Regions from separate parts of the Homo sapiens genome. Here region 1 is linked to region 2. The links come from fine-mapping of genetic effects on gene expression. A gene starts in region 2. The other region holds a variant in brackets. All regions are shown on one strand. Distances are between the middles of the regions. Region 1 overlaps IKBKB-DT (IKBKB divergent transcript). Region 2 holds the start of PLAT (plasminogen activator, tissue type).

The links. PIP is the estimated chance that this variant, and not a neighbour inherited with it, causes the effect.
Region 1: its variant is fine-mapped to the expression of PLAT in fibroblasts (GTEx, PIP above 0.99).

The regions. Positions count from the first base shown.
Region 1 is chr8:42,255,319-42,258,232 of GRCh38, reverse strand. It overlaps IKBKB-DT (IKBKB divergent transcript), which reads left to right. Exons shown (of 4, transcript NR_185843.2): 4 at 2,719-2,913. Among named protein-coding and RNA genes, the nearest start is that of IKBKB-DT, 14 kb to the left of the region's middle. The variant G/A (reference allele first, on the strand shown) is at 1,490.
Region 2 is chr8:42,206,260-42,209,173 of GRCh38, reverse strand. It overlaps PLAT (plasminogen activator, tissue type), which reads left to right and starts at 1,609. Exons shown (of 14, transcript NM_000930.5): 1 at 1,609-1,680. RefSeq lists enhancers at 71-589, 590-1,108.

The DNA.
Region 1 (2,914 bases), 49 kb before region 2:
ATAAGGATCTCAAAAATGAGCCTTAATATCAAAAGTACAATCTAAAACTAGAGTTTCATCTTCTTTCTTAAAATTACAAAGTTTTATTGGAGTATTGGACTTCTCTTGATAAAATACTGTGGAACGTTTTTCTTTACCGTCTATGTAATCTGTGTAGGAAATCTAGAATTTGCTGAGGTGGAAAAAAATCTGCGTCTTATCAGAATAATTTCCTGTGTTTCATGTTGTCTTTTTCAGGTGTTTGATTACTTAAGAAGACTCAGTCTTCTCTGTTAAAAGAGCTAAGCTAAAAAAAAAAAAAAGAAAACTGTATACCTTTCTGTAATTACCTCTGAAATCTTCCAGCGCTTTGGTTAAATGGATAACTGAGTAATGTTTTACAGTGATCTGTGATCCTGTTTAATCAAAAAATTTAGTCTTTTGACTTTTAAAAAAAAAATTGTCCTTTGAAAATTTTTTTTTAGAGATAAGGTCTCCTCCTATGCTGCCCAGGCTGATGTCGAACTCGTGGGCTCAAGTGATCCTCCTGCCTTGGCCTCCCAAAGTGCTGGGATTATAGGCATGAGCCACTGAGCCCAGCCGTCTTTTGGCATTTTTGACAACTTTGAAAAATCAAACTCTACATGAAGTGTTTTTGACCTTGAGCTAACTTTGGAATTTTCCTGAAGGCCCCTAAAAAGTCACAAAGGACTTGTCTTTCTTCTTTTTTATTTATTATTAATTTTTTTTTTTTGAGATGGAGTCTCGCTCTGTTGCCAGGCTGGAGTGCAGTGGCGCGATCTTGGCTCACTGTAACCTCCACCTCCGGGTTCAAGAGATTCTCCTGCCTCAGCCTCCCAAGTAGCTGGGACTACAGGCGCGTGCCACCACACCCAGCTAATTTTTGTATTTTTAGTAGAGATGGGGTTTCACCATGTTGGCCAAGATGGTCTCAATTGGTTGACCTCGTGATCCGCCTGCCTCGGCCTCCCAAAGTGCTGGGATTATAGGCATAAGCCACTGCACCCGGCCTTGTCTTTCTTCTTATAAAAACAAACTTGTTAAATTAATTTGGTACGTTAAATTACATGGGAAGCATTGTTAAAAAAGAAGTGATACTAAAGCTTCTTTATGTCATATTTGTATGTATTTATGTGTTCCAGAAATTGCATGAAGTTATAATGTTGTCAGTTATAATTCTAGTTATTATCTTAAAATGTATGTGACAGAAGTAACTGAATTTTTTTCTCAATTGTATTACAATTAATTCTCATCCTTTAACCATGACCATTTGAAGTCTTTTGTCATCCACAGACAGTTAATTGTTTTATTTTGATGCATTCCTAAAAGCTTTTGCAAACAACTATAATATGAACCACCATGCTTATGTGGTTTCTTTGCATGGCTGCTGTGCTGATGAGTAAGAAAAGTCATTTCCTGGTAGGCCCAGGAACCTCAAGAAAGTGCATTTGTATTTAAGGAGATTCATGGAGAAAACGGACAAGTACAC[G/A]TTCCTGATGACTTTAAGATCATACCGTTCAACTTCCAGAACACTAATGGAAAAACTGACTCATTCATGAAATTGCTAACCAAAGATCAAGCAGAACAAGAATTAATTACATCAGACTAGATGACCCAATGAAGATGATTTAAATTATTTTTAATTATTATTATTTTTTTTGAGATGGAGTTTTGCTCTTGTTGCCCAGGTTGGAGTGCAATGGCACAATCTTGGCTCACTGCCACCTCTGCCTCTCGGGTTCAAGTGATTCTCCTGCCTCAGCCACTTGAGTAGCTTGGATTACAGGCGCATGCCACCACCCACAGCTATTTTTTTTTTTTTTTTGTATTTTTGGTAGAAACGGGGTTTCACTATGTTGGCCAGGCTGGTCTCAAACTTCTCACCTCAGGCTATCCACCTGCCTCAGCCTCCCAAACTGCTGGGATTACAGGCATGAGCCACCACGCCCGACTGATGATTATAATTCTTATGACTTCTTGTTTTAGGACATTTCTGGGTCTTTAATGGCTTTTCTCTTTTTTTCTTAAGCTAACTAAAATTTACAGCAATCAGGTAAATTATACCTTCGTAAACAGAATTGAAACATTTATCCTTTTTTCTCTACCTGATCCCTGTAGAATTCAGAAACTCTTACTGGCTATTCTTATTTTCATGACTACTCATGACTATATAGTTATTTTCTTTTTCTTTTTCTTTTTTTTTTTTGAGATGGAGTTTCACTCTTGTCGCCCAGGCTGGAGTGCAATGGTGCAATCTCGGCTCACTGCAACCTCCACCTCCCGGGTTCAAGCGATTCTCCTGCCTCAGCCTCCCAAATACCTGGGATTACAGGTGCCCGCCACCACTCCTGACTAATTTTTTTGTATTTTTAGTAGAGACGGGGTTTCACTCTGTTGGCCAGGCTGGTCTTGAACTCCTGACCTCGTGATCCACCCGCCTCGGCCTCCCAAAGTGCTGGGATTACAGGTGTGAGCCACCATGCTTGGCACTATATAGTTATTTTCATAAATTCAGTAAGAATCTAGTCTCCTTATAACAGGGACACAATTGAAAACCTTGATTATATTGCTAAGACGTTGACTGGAATATCAAATATGAAAATGAACATATAATCCGATATGATCAGACAGTTTTAAGGAACTAAGGTTGACTTTATGGAGCCAAAAAGCCAACCTCATACTTTGCTTATGTGGTTTCTTTATGTGGTTGCCTTACAGATGAGTAAGAAAGGTCACTTCCTGGCAGACCTCAGGTATATTGGGGACATCAAGAAAAGAATAATTCATCAAAGTCTACAGATATTGCAGGCAAAGTTGAAACAAGCCAGACAAGTTCTCTTTGTATTCTTGAGAGACTTGGAAAGTCTAACCTGAGATTCCTTATTAAAAGTTCCAGCAAAACAGACTTAAAAAG
Region 2 (2,914 bases):
TTTTAGTTTGGGAAATCTCCATATTGTTTTCCATAGAGGTTCAGGATCCAGGATTTAAGTGCAACCATTCAGTGGAAAACCATCCTCTCAAGAGTTCAAATGAGAGTCCTCATGACCAGCACTCCCTGCTGAACGGCAATGCCCCACCCCCCAAAAAAGCCTCCATCCTCACCATCTTAGACCACATTGCAGGAAAGCAGCCCCATGCCCACCAGACAGGCCCACAGCTGCTGCTGCTCATGGGAGGTCTACCTCCCGTGCTCAGCAGGCAACCCACCCCAGTGCCCCTTTTCTACAATGACCATCAGCAGGGCTGCAGCTTCATAAAAATGTGAAAAACAGTTTGAAAGCAATGTGAAAAGCAGTTAGGTGCCTTTCAACTTCAAACTCAGCACTCATGGTTTGACAAATATGAGTATATTTAGGATCAGAATGTATGAAATCTGGCCTCTCCTGAATAGTCGGTCATCCCACAATTTCCTCTGCCAAACTTCTCTTCCCTCCCTGCGTTCTTTCTTTCACCTCTCTCTCATTTTTACAAGGTCTGGTCTCAGCCAGACATGAACCAATGATGATAGATGCTCCTGCTGAGCCCTGTGATGTGCCAGGGCCCTGACATGCGTGGCTTCTCTCTGATCCTCACGTGACCTGCAGATGCAAAAGCCAGAGCTCAGCATAGTTGAAAATCTTGATTGAGGTCATATCCCAGTTACTGGCACAGCCGGATTTAAACCTAAGACTTTCCCCTACACGACAGGGCTTTTATTTCTCAGTCATCTGAAAAGGTGTCAGCAAGGGAAATGGCTTGTCTATTTCCAGGGGCATTTTACAAGCAAATACTGAAAGGCTTCGGTGGGCTTAAGGGCTGATGGCTTTGATCGAATTTCAGGCATGTTGGCCCCAAGGCCCTGTGTATATTCCCTGGGCCCACTCAAGGGGATGCTGGAGCCGGAAAGTCCCCGGAGGCCACCTACTGCAGCCCTGCACTTTACAAAGAAGAGAAAGATTCTCCCTAAAATTACAGAACAGGGCCAAAGATGCCTACCGGAGCAAACCCCCATGGGGGCACCTCCTACCGCAGGTGAGCCCAAGGCTGGTCCTGCCTTCTCAGTGGCTACCCCCCTGAGCTCCCGCCACCACACAAAGTGTTCCAATCCTTGTGCATCCTCCAGTCCTTTTAACCTCTCATGTCCTGAGAGGCCAGAGCTACAGCCACAGATTCCAGAAGACACCCCACTCCCAGCCCCAACCTGCTGCCTTTAGAATTATAAACACTTCTTGTCATCACAGGGTCCTGAAAGTCCCTTTTAAGCCTGGGACACTAGGACTCTAAAGGAAGATGATTCTTAAGGTCCCATCCCACTTCCAAATTCCTGCGATTCAATGACATCACGGCTGTGAATAATCAGCCTGGCCCGAAGCCAGGATGGGCTGTGCTGCTTCCACCGTGAACTTCCTCCCCCTGCTTTATAAAAACAGGCCTGCCTCAGCTCCCTCATGGCCCTGTCCACTGAGCATCCTCCCGCCACACAGAAACCCGCCCAGCCGGGGCCACCGACCCCACCCCCTGCCTGGAAACTTAAAGGAGGCCGGAGCTGTGGGGAGCTCAGAGCTGAGATCCTACAGGAGTCCAGGGCTGGAGAGAAAACCTCTGCGAGGAAAGGGAAGGAGCAAGCCGTGGTAGGTCGGGTTTCTGTACCTTGGGGTCTGTCTCCTCTTCTTTCTCTTAAAAGTCTTTCCAGCAAGCTGAGCCAGTGAAGGAATGCTTTAACCAAGGGACCAACTTTGTAATTCAGGCAACTAGAGGATCCGCTAGAATCCACTCCAGAGGGGAGATGTCTGTTTGCATTTGCATGTGATTGGGATAGGCTGGAGTGTTTTGGAGGGGAGAGGCAGTCGGGGAAAGGGAGACTAGGGAGGTTGCATTCATTGGAGAAGCCTCTGCTGACAGAGTAAAGGGGAAAGTGAAAAGAACGATACAGAAAAGCCCCAAATAGCCTATGGGAGTACCTCAAGACGAGCAAGCAATAAAAGCAAAATCGGCTGCCTTGGGACACGTGCCTGTGACAGCTGGGAGGGCCCGCTGGGTCCCCTAGTTTCCTCCCTCCCCCGATGAACCCCCAGAAAGGAACTGAGGCTGTGGATGGGGCAGAGGGGGACTTACTTCCAGAGCACTATTTGCTAGGTGCTGGGAGAGAGAAGCAGGTGGCTTTCACACCCCACATTACCCCGTGGGATAGAGAAATGCCTCTGATCTCCCTAGGTGCCACCCCTACAAGTCTCCACAGGTCAGTTTGGCCCTCTGGCTTTTTGCCCAGGGTGCATCAGTCAAGTGTGCAGTCCTCCTTAAAGGACATTTTAATTACAGGGGAAAAAACTGACATTAATGTCTTTTATTCCTAAAGCACTCTGCAGGAAGCATGTGGGGTTCTCCAGATTTTCACTGTTATTATCTTTATTTTCTTAACCTCACAGGGAGGGAGAGAGGAAGGGAGGGAGGGAAGACGAAAACACGCCGAGGTCCCAGGTAACTAATGACAACTCAAGCTCAAAGAAGTGTGGTAACAAGGATGTGTTTGGTGGCCAATTGGGAATAATATGGTGGTCTCCTGTAGCTGCTTGATGACAGAAAAAATGTCGTGTGTGTGTGTATGCGTGTGCATTGCAGTCCCGGGAAGGGGTCTTGCAAATACCATTGTCAGGTGGAGTCCCCTCAAAGGTGACTTCCTAGCAGTACTTGCTGTGGCAAGAACGCTCATTCTGGGATCTAGACTCAATCCATGACGGTCAGCATGAGCTGCTGGGTGCGTGCTTCCTGTGCAGGCAGAGTCGGACTCCAGCACTGGCAGGGACACTGTGAGTATTGAGATATGAATAGCTCCATCCTGCCCACCCATTTATTCCACCTAAAATG